2 separate regions of the Homo sapiens genome follow, and region 1 is linked to region 2. Evidence: fine-mapped expression QTL. Tissue or cell type: uterus. Region 2 holds a variant in brackets; the other region holds the start of a gene. All regions are shown on one strand. Distances are from middle to middle.

Region 1 (7,880 bases), 280 kb before region 2:
GGGCGCAGTGGCTCACACCTGTAATCCCAGCACTTTGAGGCTGAGGTGGGTGGATCATCTGAGGTCAGGAGTTCAAGACCAGCTTGGCCAACATGGTGAAACCCCATCTCTACTAAAAATACAAAAAAATTAGGCAGGCGTGGTGGCATGTGCCTGTACTCCCAGCTACTTGGGAGGCTGAGGCAGGAGAACGGTTTGAACCCAGGAGGTGGAGGTTGCAGTGAGCCAAGATTACACCACTGCCCTCCAGCTTGGGTGACAGAGCTAGACTCCATCTTGAAAAAAAAAAAAAAAAAAGCAGGGAATAAATATGGTACATGGGAGAACATGATGAAGTTGACCACCTCCTAAAAGTTGAAGGAGGATGAGATGGAGAGGTAGACAAGCTAGATAGCTGGAACTAACAATAGTGCTGAATGAAGGCCGGGTGTGCTGGCTCACGCCTGTAATCCCAGCACTTTGGGAGGCCAAGGCAGGCAGATCACGAGGTCAGAAGATCGAGACCATCCTGGCTAACACGGTGAAATGCCGTCTCTACTAAAAATACAAAAAATTAGCTGGGTGTGGTAGCACGCGCCTGTAGTCCCAGCTACTGGGGAGGCTGAGGCAGGAGAATGGCGTGAACCCGGGAAGTGGAGGTTGCAATGAGCCAAGATCGTGCCACTGCACTCCAGCCTGGGGGACAGAGCATGAGACTCTGTCTCAAAAAAAAAGTGCTGAATGACACATTTCCTTACTTTTTCTTCATCTACTTCTAAGCAGGATCAGATCTAATAACTAAGCCAGCCTTGGAAACACCTCCCAACACAGGGGTTGGGGGCAGGCTAAAGGGGTAGAAATGGTGAAACAATCACATGACGGTGTGACCTTAAGAACATTATCAAAAAATTTTTTGAGAGTTTACTCTGGGCTGAGCGGTGTACAAGGGGCTGTAAATATAAAGAAATGGGAGTAAAATCCAGTCCCTGGGTTCAAGGGGCTTACTGGGGAGACAGAGACCATGCCGAAATGCTGGGTCTTTTAATAATTTCCCACTTCATTATCTCTCTTTGCCCACACAAGTCTAGAAATTCCAAAGGTTTACAGTTTAAATGATGTCTCCAAGATTGTAAAGGTCTTCCTTTGGTCAATGATGTACCCAAAGTTGGGGTGAGAGAATATGGTAAACACACATATAAATTTACAAGGCAGTACATCCCAGTGATGAAATTAATTGCATAGAAGATCAGTGCTACACGATTTCAGAGGTGGGAAAAATCCCTAAAGGTTAAAAATAGAGGTCAATATTGAAAGAGAAAACTTAGATAAGTAGAGAACTGAAGGAAGTGGATGAAGTGAGCAAAGACCTGTCTACAAAATTTCATCTTAAATTTGGCATAGAACTTGTATTAATTACTATTTGTAGCATGACAACAGCGAAGTATACAGATGTGCCTTTTCCTGGATGGGAGGTAAACAGTATGAAAATGGACTGCCTGTGTTCAAATCCAGGCTCTGCCATTTACTAACTGTGTAAGCTTAAGCAAGGTATTTTACTGAAGTTACTGTGCTTGTTTCCTCATCTGTAACATGAAGATAACTGTACCTACCTCCTGAATTAATTATATATATGTAAGAAGATTAGAACAGAGTCTCATACATGAAAGGACACAAACGCCAGTTATGATTCTTATTATTTATATAGCCAAAGGGCAGATAACCATATCTAATTGTTGGGCAGTCTGACCAACAAACAAGGAAAAAGTCTCCTACCCCAATGCCTACCCAAAGGCCCTAAGGAAGGCTGAACTAGATGAACTGAGAATCCATAGTATGGTAACAATTCACTCCTATAAGAGTCTACATAAGCAGAAACAATTCCTACTTATCCATGGATTCATGTGATCCAAAAGCAAAGTCCAGCTCACTTCATAGGGTGCGCCATACCTACATCACAAAGAGAGCCAGGGGGTTATGGGCACCAGTTTTGGAATCAATAGGCCAGAAGTCAAATACCAGTTCCGCTACTTACTAAATGCACTAAATGTGCGAAATTAGGCAAATTATCAATGCTGTCCTTTTTTTTTTTTTTTTTTTTTTTTTGAGACAGATTCTCCCTCTTGTTGCCCAGGCTGGAGTGCAATAGCACGATCTCGGCACACTGCAACCTCCGCCTCCTGGGTTCAAGTGATTCTCCTGCCTCAGGCTCCCGAGTAGCTGGGATTACAGGCGCCTGCCACCACGCCCGGCTAATTTTTTGTATTTTTTTAGTACAGACGGGGTTTCACCATGTTGGCCAGACTGGTCTCGAACTCCTGATCTCAGGTGACCCGCCCGCCTCGGCCTCCCAAAGTGCTGGGATTACAGGCGTGAGCCACCGTGCGCGGCCTCTATGCTGTCTTAAGTCCCATTTCCACAACTGTAAAATGTGAGTAACAGGTCCTATATAATAGGAAATGTGTGAGGATTTAAATGACTATACACGCAAAACGCCTAGCCCAGTGCCTGTTACTTATATAAATAAACCTCAGTAACAATTATTTTAGTCCTAAGTAAAGCCACCAGTGTGTTTCCCCACAAATCCAGCGCAGATTTGTCCAGAACCAATCAGTGCTAGAAGTGATAACATTTTCAGTTATTAATAGAATAAGAATGGGTTGGCCGGGCGCGGTGGCTCACGCCTGTAATCCTAAAGAGTAATGCCTAAAGAGTAACTCGTAAAAAAAAGTAGTCCTAACAATGGACCTCTGGGTTTATGTTGGCCTCTGAGGAGTCTCTGGGGCTCTTACATTGCAGCCTATCCTCCAGAGCCAGGATCCAATCCCGAGTCGGGACGCGTGACTGCCCTTACCGCTCAGGTCAAGGGCTCCAGTTAAGCCTCCTGGACCACCCAACTCTACAATGAGGAATCATCGAGTCGCAGCTTTCGCCGCCCGTTGAAGGGCCGTGCCCGAGATCTATGCACAGAGGAGGCCACAGTTGCTCCCTTACAGACCAAAGGCCCGCAGGCAGGTTCCAGCAAAGAAACTGGACACGCTACCCTGGGTCCTCCTCCCAGATCACCTGAAATCCGTCCCTCCAGCCCCGCCACCTACGTGCTCCAGGCCTGTCTGGGCGCCGCCATCTTGCCCCGCAGAGATCGCGTTTCCGCCGCCGCCAGATTCCAGCTTCCGCCCCGCAGCCCAGCCCCGCCTCTCCCGGTCTTATCTCGGAGCATTCTGGGCTTTGCTTGTTCAGTGCAGCGGACTGGTGAGCGCGGTGCTGCGCGGCTGGCGGTTTATTACCCCCACGTAAGCTCTATACCATCACCCAGAACACACATCCTTTTTTTTTTTTTTTTTTTTTGAGACAGAGTCTTGCTCTGTCGCACAGGCTGGAGTGCTGTGGCGCAATCTCGGCTCACTGCAACCTCCGCCTCCCGGGCTCAAGCGATTCTTGTGCCTCAGCCTCCCGAGTAGCTGGGATTACAGGTGCCCGCCACCACGTCTGGCTAATTTTTGTATTTTTAGTAGAGACGGGGTTTCACCATGTTGGCCAAGCTGGTCTCGAACTCCCGACCTTAGGTAATCCGCCCGCCTCGGCCCCCCAAAGTGCTGTGATTACAGGATGTGCCACCGCGCCTGGCCCACACATGCTTCTGATGTACAGCAGGCACAGCCCCTTCTGCACTTACGACACCCCTGGCAGGGACACAGCGTTCCTCAGACGTCCCTCTGCACTCACCAGCCAGTGTTACCACATCCCACATCCCAGCACCCACGCCCACGGCAGCACACAGAAACGTGGACACACACACACACCCCAACGTGACGAATGTGTTTATGGAAGAGCTAGAAGGTAACCATGAAAAAGGCCCAAGGAAAGAACACTGCCAGTGTGCACTGCAGAAATAGTGGTGGTGAGAAGAGAGGGAATAAAGCTTCCTTGCTAGCAAGGTTATCATCTTCTCCAGAATCTTGCCTTTGTTCATCCCACTCTCCCTTCTTGGAAATCCTCCCTCTTTTCCCTGCCACCCCTGTCTCCAAAGGATAACTCTTTAAGGCCTAGCTGGCGTCAACTCTAAAACCTCTGCCAGCCACGCCTACTCACCAAACTTTCCTTGGATTCACCTGGAATCTCACCGCCTGCACCAGTTGTGTGGTATGCTAAGAACACACTGCCAACTACCAACTGTCACCGGTTACCTTTTCACAGGCTTATGTCCTGTTCCCTTGAATAGACTGTCAGTTCCTTGTGGGCACCAGACCTTGTACTTTGCATCTAAATACTGAGCACCCAACGTGTTGCCATGCACATAGTAGGACCTTAAGTAAATCATTTCTAGACCAAAGGACATCATGGGGCAGCCAATGTTAGTCCAGTGGCTTTCCAACTTTAACAGGCACCAGAATCAACTGGAAGTCTTGTTAAACCAGATTGCTGGGGCCAGGCACAGTGGCACATGCCTATAATCCCAGTACTTTGGGAGGCTGAAGCTGGCAGATCACCTAAGGTCAGGAGTTCGAGACCAGCCTGACCAACATGGTGAAACCCCATCTCTACTAAAAATATAAAAATTAGCAGGGCATGGTGGTGTCCATCTGTAGTCCCAGCTACTCAAGAGGCTGAGCCAGGAGAATCACTTGAACCTGGGAAGCGGAGGTTGCAGTGAGCCAAGATGGAACCACTGCACTCCAGATTGGGCCACAGAGCCAGACTCTGTTTCAAACAAAACGAAACAGATTGCTGGGCCTCAACCTCTGAGTTTCTGATTCAGTAGGTTTTTCTTTTTCTTTCTTTTTTTTTTTTTAAGACGGAGTCTTGCTCTTGTCGCCCAGGCTGGAGTGCAATAGCATGATCTCGGCACACTGCAACCTCCTCCTGGGTTCAAGTGATTCTCCTGCCTCAGCCTCCCGAGTAGCTGGGATTACAGGCGCCCGCCACCATGCCCAGCTAATTTTTGTATTTTTAGTAGAGACGGGGTTTCACCATGTTGGCCAGGCTGGTCTCGAGCTCCTGACCTCAGGTGATCCACCTACGTCAGCTTCCTAAAGTGCTGGGATTACAGGCATGAGCTACTGCACCTGGCCTGTTTCAGTAGGTTTCCTTTTTTTTTGTGACAGAGTCTCGCTCTGTCGCCCAGGCTGGAGTGCACTGGCGCAGTCTCAGCTCACTGCAACCTGCACCTCCCGGGTTCACACCATTCTCCTGCCTCAGCCTCCTGAGTAGCTGGGACTACAGGCACCTGTCACCATGCCGGGCTACTTTTTTGTATTTTTAGTAGAGACAGGGTTTCACCGTGTTAGCCAGGATGGTCTCCATCTCCTGACCTCGTGATCTGCCCGCCTTGGCCTCCCAAAGTGCTGGGATTACAGGCGTGAGCCACCGTGCCCAGCCGATTCAGTAGGTTTCTAATAGAGCCCCAAAATTTGTATTTCTACCAAGTTTCTAGGTGATGCTGCTGGTCCCGCACTATAGCAGATCTATAATCCTCTTGGCTTCAACTACAGATGTAAATTTCGGCTACTAGGATTTAGTCATCTTGAGGTCCAAAATAGTACTAGACCTGGTCAGAAGTTATGGAGGCAGCGGGATGAGGGAGAGGAACTGGAGCCAAATATGCAGAATGAATGATAGTAGAAAATAATTGTTCGCAATGAAATAACGAGATAATGGCTCCTGGCAATGGTGCCACCACGCCCAGCTAAGTTTTGTATTTTTAGTAGGGACACGGTTGGACCATGTTGGCCAGGTTGGTCACGAACTCCTGACCTCAGGTGATCTGGCCTCCCAAATGCTGGGACTATAGGCATAAGCCACCATCCCCAGCTCCAGCATTCTGTTTTAACAAGCCTTCCACTTAATTTTGGTGCCTGCTAAGGTTGGAAAACACACCCAGCCTCATATAAAGTCTTCATCAACCTTTGACCTAATAGTTTTAACAGTCATTGTTTAACAACTAGGTGAAAGGTTGATGCAGACTTTATATGGATGGATCAGGTTGCCATTATATGAACTTACTGATGAATCTTTTCTACTGTTTTGAGATAGGGTCTTGCTCTGTTGCCCAGGCTGGAGTGCAGTGGTGCAACCTCAGCTCACTGCAACCTCTGCTTCCCTCTGCTTGCTGAGCTCAAGCGATTCTCCTGCCTCAACCTCCTGAATAGCTGGGATCACAGGCCTGAACCAAACGTGGCTAATTCTTTTATTTTTTGTAGTGACAGGGTTTTGCCATGTCACCTAGTCTGGTGTCAAACTCCTGGGCTCTAGTGACTCACCCGCCGCAGCCTCCCAAAATGCTGGAATTACAGGCATGAGTCACTGCACCAGCCGAGACTATTTATTTATTATTTATTTTATTTTATGTTGTTGAGATGGAGTCTTGCTCTGTTGCCCAGGCTGGAGTGCAGTGGCATGATCTCGGCTCACTGCAGCCTCCGCCTCCTGGGTTCAAGTGGTTCTCCTGCCTCAGCCTCCTAAGTAGCTGTGATTACAGGCGTGTGCCACCATACCTGGCTAACTTTTTTCTTTTTTTTTTGAGACGGAGTTTCGCTCTTGTTGCCAAGCTGCAGGGCAATGGTGTGATCTCGGCTCACTGCAAACTCTGCCTCCTGGGTTCAAGTGATTATCTTGCCTCAGCCTCCCAGGTAGCTGGGGTTACAGGCACATGCCACCATGCCCGGCTAATTTTTGTATTTTGAGTAGAGACAAGGTTTCAATTCACCATGTTGACCAGGCTGGTCTCATACTCCTGACTTCAGGTGTTCTACCCACCTCGGCCTCCCAAAGTGCTGGGATTACAGGCGTGAGCCACTGCGTCCAGCCAATTTTTGTATTTTTAGTAGAGACAGGGTTTCACCATGTTGGTCAGGCTGGTCTCAAACTCCTGACCTCAGGTGATTTGCCCACCTCAGCCTCCCAAAATGCTGGGATTACAAGTGTAAGCCACTGCACTGGGCAGAGACTATAACATATGAAATGCGGTCTTTGTTTATATCTTCATTTTTGAAACTGTTTTTTTGAGACTGTTAGGGAATACTAAATATAAACTAGATTTTGTATGATATTAAGGATTTACTTTTTTTTTTTTTTGAGATAGGGTCTTGCTTTGTCACCGAGGCTGGAGTGCAGTGGTGCTGTCATGACTCACTGCAGCCTCGACCTCCTAGGCTCAAGTGATCCTCCCACCTCAGCCTCCCAAGTAGCTGGGACCACAGGTGCATGCCACCACACCCAGCGAGGATTTATGAAATTTTTATTGGGTAAGACTATGTTTTTTTGTTTCAAAGACTGGGTGTGGTGGCTCATGCTTATAATCTCAGCACTTTGGTAGGCTGAGGCAGGAGTATTGCTTGTGGCCAGGAATTCAAGACCAGCCCGGGCAACGTAGGAAGACCCTGTTCTATAAAAAAAATTTTTTTTAATTAGCTGGGTGTGGTGGCACCTATAGTCCTAGCGATGCAGCGGCGGGGGAATAGCTTGATCCCAGGAATGTGAGGCTGCAGCAAGCTGTTTGCACAACTGCACCCCAGCCTCAGTGACAGAATGAGACTTTGTCGCTAAAAAGAATTTTTTTTTTTTTGAGACGGAGTCTCGCTCATGTCGCCCAGGCTGGAGTGCAATGGTGCAATCTCAGCTCACTGCAACCTCCACCTCCCGGGTTCAAGCTATTCGCCTGCCTTAGCTTCCTAAGTAGCAGGGATTACAGGTGCCCACCACCACGCCTAGCTAATTTTTGTACTTTTAGTAGACACGGGGTTTCGCCATGTTGTCCAGGATGGTCTCAAACTCCTGACCTCAGGTGATCCGCCTGCCTCAGCCTCCCAAAGTGCTGGGATCACAGGAGTGAGCCACTGCACCTGGCAAAAGAATAATTTTTTTTTTCACTTTGTCGCCCAGTCTGGAGTGCAGTGGCGTGATCT
Region 2 (7,880 bases):
CCGTCCTACCCTGGCTGCATTCTCTCCTGTCACCAAAGGCCGGGCCCCTGGCGAGGCAGAAAAGCCTGGCTTCCCGGTGGGCCTAGGAAAAGCTCACAGTACAACTGAGAGATGGGCCTGTTTGGGGGAGGGCACCACTCCCAAGCCTAGGACAGAGTGCCAGGCTCATCCTGGGCCCAGCAGCCCCTGTGCCCAGCAACTGCCAGTCAGCAGCCTCTTCCAAGGCCCTGAAAACTTGCAGCCCCCACCCCCTGAGAAGACTCCCAACCCCATGGAATGCACCAAGCCAGGGGCAGCCCTGAGCCAGGACTCAGGTGTGCACAGCTCCCCAGCTCTCATCTCCTGCCCCATCCTTACTCTCCCCTCTCTGTTGGCCGCTGTCTGGCTCCATCCCATTTCTGTGGGTACAGCTTCTGGTGTTTCTTGTCCTGTCTGCTCCTGTCGCAGGTCCGTAAGTCACACCCCTGATGGTGAGACCCTCCTGCTAACCTTCATGATTTCCTTGTGACTCACTTGCCCATTCAGTGGCTTCTGAACTTGGGGCTGGCCGTCTCCTCTGGACCTTGTTTGTGTGGTGTTGGGGAGGCCGTTGGAAGAGAAGCCAAGAGGAAGGGACTGAGGGCAAGTGGGGGGTGCAATGCTGAGGGCTAGGTCTCTCCTGTTCTGAGTGTCTTGGGTGCGGAGGCCTGAAAGGGCTACATGCTGGGCCTCACTGAGCTGTATCCGTCTCTTTCAGAGCCAGCGGTGAGCCTGGAGCAGTGTGAGCAGCTGGTGGCAGAGCTCCGCGGCAGCGTGCGCCAGGCAGTGCGGCTCTACCACTCGGTGGGTGTTAGGTGCCCCCCGGCAGGAAGGCGGGCACGTCAGTAGTGCTGGGTGTTTCGGATAACCATGTCCAGAACAGTATGCTAAGCCTCTTGTGCTGACAGGATGGCACACTCAAGAACATCTTGGGCAGCATAGGTGAGGGGGTTAGAGGCCAGGCTAGCCTCTTGTACCGGGCACCTGCGGTCATTTCTGGTTAAGAGCTGGAGACTTCCCTCAGGAGGTGAGGCCTGAAGAGACCACACCTCCTAGTTGGCTCAGGACAATCCCAGTTTATGTCGTTGTCCCAGTGTAATTATTAATGGCATCCTTTTTCATATCCATGAATTATTTGGCCCCCTTAGACATAGGGGACAGTCCAAGAAGGCCCAAACTTTGAAAGAGAAAGCAGATTCTGCCGGAGTTGTCATAAGGAGTTGCTTATAAGATGTAGACGGTTCTGCAATCCAATGGGTTCCTCCTTGGGCGTCACCCCCAGAGTCTGCCTGCATCCCATGTTCCCTGGCCATACATGCTGATCTTGGCGGGTAGAGTTCCCAGCTAGTCCCTTCTGAGGCAGGCTGGACCCAGGTGGGGCCCCTCCCTTTTATATGTCTGTTGACAGGCTCCTCCACCTCACTTCTGGGGGTGCTATTTCAGGTGGCTGGCTGCAAGATGCCCTCAGCAGAGCAAAGTCGGATTGCCCAGCTCCTCAGAGACACCTTCTCTTCAGTGCGACAGGAGCTGGAAGCTGTGGCTGGGGCAGTGCTGTCCAGCCCAGGCAGCAGCCCTGGGGCTGTGGGAGCCGAGCAGACACAGGCCCTGCTGGAGCAATACTCAGAACTGTTGCTTCGAGCCGTGGAACGGCGTATGGAACGCAAACTCTGAGTTCTGGAAGCCTGTCCCAAGTGAATGAATGCTCCAGCGATTCCAAACTGCAGCCCCTCTGCCCCTCACCAAAACCTGCGGGGCTGCTTGGAGTGGAAAGCAGGGAGCAGTGTTCAGAGGCAAAGCAGCCTTCCCAGCCGCTCCTCGTGGGGGGCCTGTATTTATTAATTTATTTCCCTGACTGTTGCCTCACTTCCTTGGAACTCCTGCCTCCACAGCCCCTCCAGTGGCAGGGACAGGTCTTGGGTCTTTGTCATCTTGGTGCTGTGAGAGGTAGGAGGGCAGCCTGCCCCATCTAGGAATCTGGGAAGGGCTGGCCCTCTCTTAGAAGCCATTTGAAATTACTGCAGGGATTAGCTCCCTGTGGTGGAGCATACACAGGGTACTCTGGGGTCGAGGTGAGAGGTGATGTGGTATTCAGTGCCCGTCAGCCAACTGTGGGCCTTCACCTCTACCTGCACTTCCCCTCTCACACCAGCTGCACTCCCGTGGCTGCCAGAGCAGGGTGGTTTTCCCCAATACCTGGAGCTCAGAAAGGCAGAGCCATCTGGCCCTCCAGGGTGTCCCCAGCCATCAGGAGACTTGAGTTGGTATTTGGACCTGAGCCCGCACATTCCACTCCCATTCTCCCTCCAAGAGGGGCCCAGCATTGTATTTCCCTGTGACCCCTTACTCTCCTGGCCAGAACTTGAGCCAGCTGTGGGATGTTGCTGCAGGACAGTAAGCCCTCACCTGGGCAAACATGAAGCTCTGGCCTCCTTTCCTCAGCCCCTTGTTCTTCCCTGTCCTCCACCCTGGACCCCAGCCGGCTGCTGGAGCCCAGAGGCCACCTTCTCCCTGCATCCTGAATGATGCTTAGTCAGAAGCCTGTGTTGGAACATCCCTCGTTTACGGGGCGCTGGCCTACCTCCTGAGGACCTCAGCCACAGATGAGATCACACGCATGCACGTGCACACATGTACACACACACACCTACCTGCACAGCACGCTGTTGAGTGTTGGTTGCTAGAGTATCTGGCTGGCTGCTGTGTGCCTGGTTTCCTCACATCCTGCCTCAGCTTCACCACCCTGGCTTATGTGGAACACCTATCAGGGAGCAGAAAAGGGGTGCAGTACACTAAGTGAACCCAGATTCTGGATTCTTGGTGTCCACAGCCTAGCTGATACGAGATAGCCCATAGGACACCTGGTTTAGGTAGAAGGAGCCTCCTCAAAGGCAGTGCTGGGCACCCACGGGTGTGCTGGATACTGGAGTTTGAGAGGAGGGAGGTGCTGGGGCCAAAGGAGACACTAGAAAAGTGGTAGATGGGACAGGTAAGTGGCAGAGGTGAGGGGATAAGTTAGAATGTAAAAGGGCAGTAATTAGGGGTGAGGGAAAGGAGATAGGGGACCCTAGGAGGTAGAGTGGGACCATGTCGTGAGGCAGTTGAAGAGTTGAGGAAAGGTTTTTCTGGGCCCTACTGCTCCCCTCTGCTGCAGGTAAGTCAGAGCAGCTTTACCACAGCTTCAGGCCACGAGAGCCCCTTCACCCGCCCTGCTGCGCCATAGGCAGAGGCTTATAAAGAAATGGGTTCTGGGCCAGGTGTGGTGGCTCAAGCCTGTAATCCCAGCACTTTGGGAGGCCGAGGCGGGTGGATCACCTGAGGTTAGGAGTTCGAGATCAGCCTGGCCAACATGGTGAAACCCTGTCTACTAAAAATAAAAAAATTAGCTGGGCGTGGTGGTGGGCGCCTGTAATCCCAGCTACTCGGGAGGTTTAGGCAGGAGAATCGCTTGAACCCTGGAGGTGGAGGTGGAGGTTGCAGTGAGCCGAGATCGCGCCATTGCACTCCAACCTAGGTGACAAAGCTACACGCCATCTCAAAAAAAAAAAAGAAAAAGGGTTACAAAAGGTTCCCAGCTCCGGGGCATCAGCCTGAGTGCGCTTGAGCTGCTCCAAACCTGGCCCTTCCCCACTCCTCTAGCATCGCCACCCGCATGGCCCTGGAACTCCCGCGGCGGCGGGGGCGGGCCCGTGCCTGCTGTGCCCCGACTTCCCACACCAGCCGCGCCCACCGCAGGTGGGACTCAGGTTCGCCCTCTGGGCCAGGTCCTTCACGAGGAGGGAGCTACCCTTCGCCAGAAGTTTGTGAGAATGTGGCCGCCCTTTTCCTGCCCTCTGCCCCATGTGGGTGGGGGGCCTCGTGGCCCGGCCGGCGCCCCGTCCCCTTCTGCATGTCTGAGGCCACCGGCAACCGCCGCCCCACTCCAGATTTGCCCCCGCCTTGTTTTGAAAGCCCCTTATTTATAACTTTTATACTTTGTGCAGGTCGCGGCGCTTCCTGCCTCATCCTCGGCTGCATGGGGCGGGGGCGCTGTTTTTAACGTGCCCGTTTGTACTGATGTATGAACTTGTCAATAAACACAATTGTTTGTTAACCCTGGGATGCCGGCCAGTGGGGCAGGCCGAAGCGGGCGCTGCCAGTCGCTCCACCGCTTCGGTGGCAGAACCCGGTGTGTGTCCAGGGGCAGGACGGGGCGGGGTGCTGGGGGTGTGGCCTGCGGCGGGTGCCTCTGGAAGGGCGGGGCGAGGGTCTGGGGGTGTGGCCTGCGGCGGGGACTCTGGGGAGGGCGGGGCGAGTGCTTGGGGTGTGGCCTGCGGCGGGGCGTCGGGGAAAGGCGGGGTCTCGGCCGGCGCTGACGCAGCCATGGCGGAGGCGGCTTTGGAAGCCGTGCGGAGCGAGTTACGAGAATTCCCGGCCGCTGCAAGGGGTGAGTGGCTCTCCCACAGGCTGCGGCGATTTCCGAACACGGGAGGGGCC[C/G]TGGGATGCCGCTGACACCGGGGGCTCGGAACCTCGTGTGTGCGACTGCCCTGAGGCCCCGCTCGGGTTGCTCTTCTGTGGCAACCTGCTTCCCTTCTCCCGTGTTCGCGCGCTCCCGCGGCTTCCTGGGTGATTCTGTTCACGTTGTTCCCAAGGCCCGGTGCCGTCTTGACCGTGGTCGCGGCGAAGCCCTGTGTTTCCTACAGTCTTGAGCAGCTTGCTGTTACCCTTGTTGAAAGCTCATCGAAGGCACACAGCTGGTGGTCGGATTCCTCCCCCACGCGCCCCACCTCCGACCTCAACTCCCTTGTCGCACTTTGGGAGGATTGCAGGCTGACCAAATGGTCCCTGGCTCTTCCCCTGCTTGGTTTTTATTCCTTTTCTTTCTTTCTCTCTTCCCTCCTTCCTTCTTTTTTCTATTTTTAAATGATTTCTTACCACTGAACAGCAACACAGGCTCATGTGTATGTGATGGGTATGTAATATACAGTGGTACGCAATGTAAATGAAGCAAGGTTTCCTCCCAGCCCCAGTTTGCATTCTTACAGAAAGATTGTTTATATCCGTGCACACACGACTTTTTACCCTTTTTTTGTACAAATAGTAGCCTGCTAAACACACTCTTCTGCACCGTGTATCTTGGAGATCATTTCACATTCCTCTACCTCAGTCTTTTTCACGTCTGTGTGCTAGTGCTGTATTCACTTAGTCATTTAGGTCATGTCCAATCCGTTGTTTTCAATAATGCTGCAACGAATACTTTGAGGATTGATTTAACAAATACTTATTCAGCATCTCTGTGTGCCAGGCTCTGTTCAGTGTGTTTGAGATACATCACTGAACAAAACAAATCTGTCTTTTACAGTCTATGTCCTGTTACATTCTAAGTGAGAACGTGGACAATCAACCACAGGTGTACTGAATGAGTACATTGTAGAGTAGAAGAAGTAGGTTAGAAGGTAAGTGCAGGCAAAGCCCTCTTTGGGAGTATGCCTGATGTGTTTAGGAAACAGTGAAGAAGCCAGTCTGCAGGAGCAGCGTCTTCTGCGCATGTGTGAGTATGTTTGTTGGTTAAATACTTTATATTTTTTGAGACAGGGTCTTACTCTGTCACACAGGCTGGAGTGCAGTGGCACGATCATAGCTCGCTGCACCTCGACCTCCCAGGTTCAAGAGATCCTCCTGCTTCAGCACCTGGGAGTAGCTGAGACTACAGGCATGCGCCACCACGCCTGGCTAATTTTTTTGAATTTTAGTAGAGACAAGGCTGGTCTCAGATTCCTCAAACAATCCTTCCACCTCAGCATTCCAAAGTTTTGGAACGCCATGGAACACATAAGCCACTGCTCCCGGCCTTGTTAAATTCTTAGCAGAGTTATGGGGTCAAAGCAATTGTTTGGATCCCTTTTGAAATTTTCTCACTTGGAAGCCCCAGGAGAGGAAAGCAGCCATTCTCTAAAGGAAATGGTGAGCAAGTAAAACAAATCCCTAATTGCAGAAGTCCAAAGGGTGAAAAAATGGCAGTTTCCATGTATTTTCAGAATCCCAGGCTGTGTGCAGTACTCACGCCTGTAATCCTAGCACTTCAGGAGACCAAGGTGGGAGGCATCTCTTGAGGCCAGGAGTTCAAGACCAGCGTGGGCAACATAGTGAGACACCATCGTGTGGTGGCATGTGCCTGTAGTCCCACCTCCTGAGGCAAGAGGATTGTTTGAGTCCAGCAGTTTTGATGACAGTGGCGGGCAGTTGGAAGCAGATGCTGTCATCATGCTGGCTGCAGTGGGGAGGCACAAGTCGGGCAGCAGAAGTGGCTCTGGGAGCAGCAGTGGTGGTAGTGAGTCCCCTGTTCCCTGCATCCCCGAGGCAGCCGACTGCACCACCCCCACCCTCACATGGCTGGGCAGGACCTGCTCCTCAGCCCAGACCCTCTGCTGCAGCCTGAACCTCGCTCCCTGCCACATCCCAGAAGCCTGCGAGCACCCTGCCAAAGGTGCAACTGGGACTTGTAGGGACTTGCACTTGTGAGTACAAAAATACTCACACATGTGCACAAAGACCCTGCTCCTGCAAACTGGCTTCTTCACTGTTTCCGGAACACAGGACTACTAGGCTCATTTGTTTGGGGTGGTCAGAGCTGCCATGCCATATGCACCTTGCCCGCCGCCGCTGTGGGGAAAACGTGAAGAGGAGAGGCAGCTGGGGCCACATGTTCCACAGAGCTGGCGGGAACTGGGGACAAGTGGGAGCCCCACCCCTTCCAAGTTGGTGGAGTGGGAGCTCCCTAGGCGCAATTACAGCCACCCAAGCCAGGACTGCAACTCAGGCACCCCTGTGCTCTTGGGAGCTAGGAGCAGGCAGGAGCCCCACCCTCCTAGATGCAGCTGCAGCCTCCCAAGCTGCAGCTGTGGACCCAGGCATGTCTGCACTTTTGGGGACCCAGGAAGGCCCCTTCCTGCTGCCGCAGGCTTGGAAGTGCCTGATCCTGCTGTCTGGCTTCTCCCCACTGTCAGCACCTGATCAGATCATGGAGCAAAGTTGAGGCCGAGCCTGGGTGCTATTGCAGTGCTGACACACCAGCCCCCTGCCTCCTTGGCCCCCTCTGGCCTTTGGGTGCCAACGAGCATGGGAGGGAGGCCAAGAGGGGCTGAGGGCAGCTCAGTGCTGGCCTGCAGGCACCCCCTTGGCACAAACAGCTTGGGTGCCGTGAATGGTGGCAAGAGGCAGACAGGTTCCTGGGTGGAAGGTGGCGGGTCCCGGTGAAGCCCGACCTTCAAGCCAGGGAAGGCCTGAAGCCTGGGGGCTGGGCTGCCGGTTCCATGGACCGGAATGGGAACTTTTGGTGCTTTTTCCGGCCCACCCATGGCTGCCCATGGACCAATAGGCATGTACCTCCTCCCCTGTGAGACCCATAAAAAGCCCCTGACTCAGCCAGACCAGAAGAGACGATGGGACGACCAGCTGCGGGGAGGAGCTACCCTCTCTGCTGAGAGCTGGAGAGATGACAGGACAACCTGCCCACAGAGAGGAGCTACTCTAGCCAGGGAAGCAAGCAGGCATGCCAGCTCTTTCTTTTCCAGTATTCCTGGGCCCAGTGGGGTCTTCTCACTCAGTTACAATATTTGATCTAAGAACATTCACTTTCCAACTGATCAGAAAGTAAAGGTGACTGGCATGGTGTGGCTGTGAGAGATGCAGTGTGACCTCAGAGGTGAACATCAGTGCCGGGACCATTTGGAGCAGGATGTGGTAACCACCAAATGGAAACCACGGCCTTTTGGCTCGACCTAGAGCATGAATGTAGCAAAGCGAAGCCCTGTACACTTTATAAAAACCAGCAGAAAGACACTCCAGTCTGAGTGAGCAGCTGGAACAAAGCTCTGCTGAGCTGA

Which allele goes with the higher level. Alleles are on the strand shown, and positions count from the first base shown. SD is a standard deviation of normalised expression in the study named.
For the expression in uterus of the gene that starts at base 3,113 in region 1, allele C in region 2 goes with a lower level than allele G (small effect, 0.36 SD a copy in GTEx).

The links. PIP is the estimated chance that this variant, and not a neighbour inherited with it, causes the effect.
Region 1: RPAP1 starts here. The variant in region 2 is fine-mapped to the expression of RPAP1 in uterus (GTEx, PIP 0.99).

What each region holds. Positions count from the first base shown.
Region 1 is chr15:41,541,145-41,549,024 of GRCh38, forward strand. RPAP1 (RNA polymerase II associated protein 1) reads right to left here and starts at 3,113. Exons shown (of 25, transcript NM_015540.4): 1 at 3,075-3,113. RefSeq lists a silencer at 1,673-1,873 and enhancers at 2,353-2,934, 2,868-3,257.
Region 2 is chr15:41,823,748-41,831,627 of GRCh38, forward strand. MAPKBP1 (mitogen-activated protein kinase binding protein 1) reads left to right here. Exons shown (of 31, transcript NM_014994.3): 29 at 1-314; 30 at 737-822; 31 at 1,462-4,108. The coding sequence ends at 1,689. JMJD7-PLA2G4B (JMJD7-PLA2G4B readthrough) reads left to right here and starts at 4,345. Exons shown (of 25, transcript NM_005090.4): 1 at 4,345-4,441. The coding sequence starts at 4,378. JMJD7 (jumonji domain containing 7) reads left to right here and starts at 4,345. Exons shown (of 8, transcript NM_001114632.2): 1 at 4,345-4,441. The coding sequence starts at 4,378. RefSeq lists enhancers at 2,015-2,897, 3,943-4,172, 4,204-4,498 and a silencer at 4,233-4,322. The variant C/G (reference allele first, on the strand shown) is at 4,492.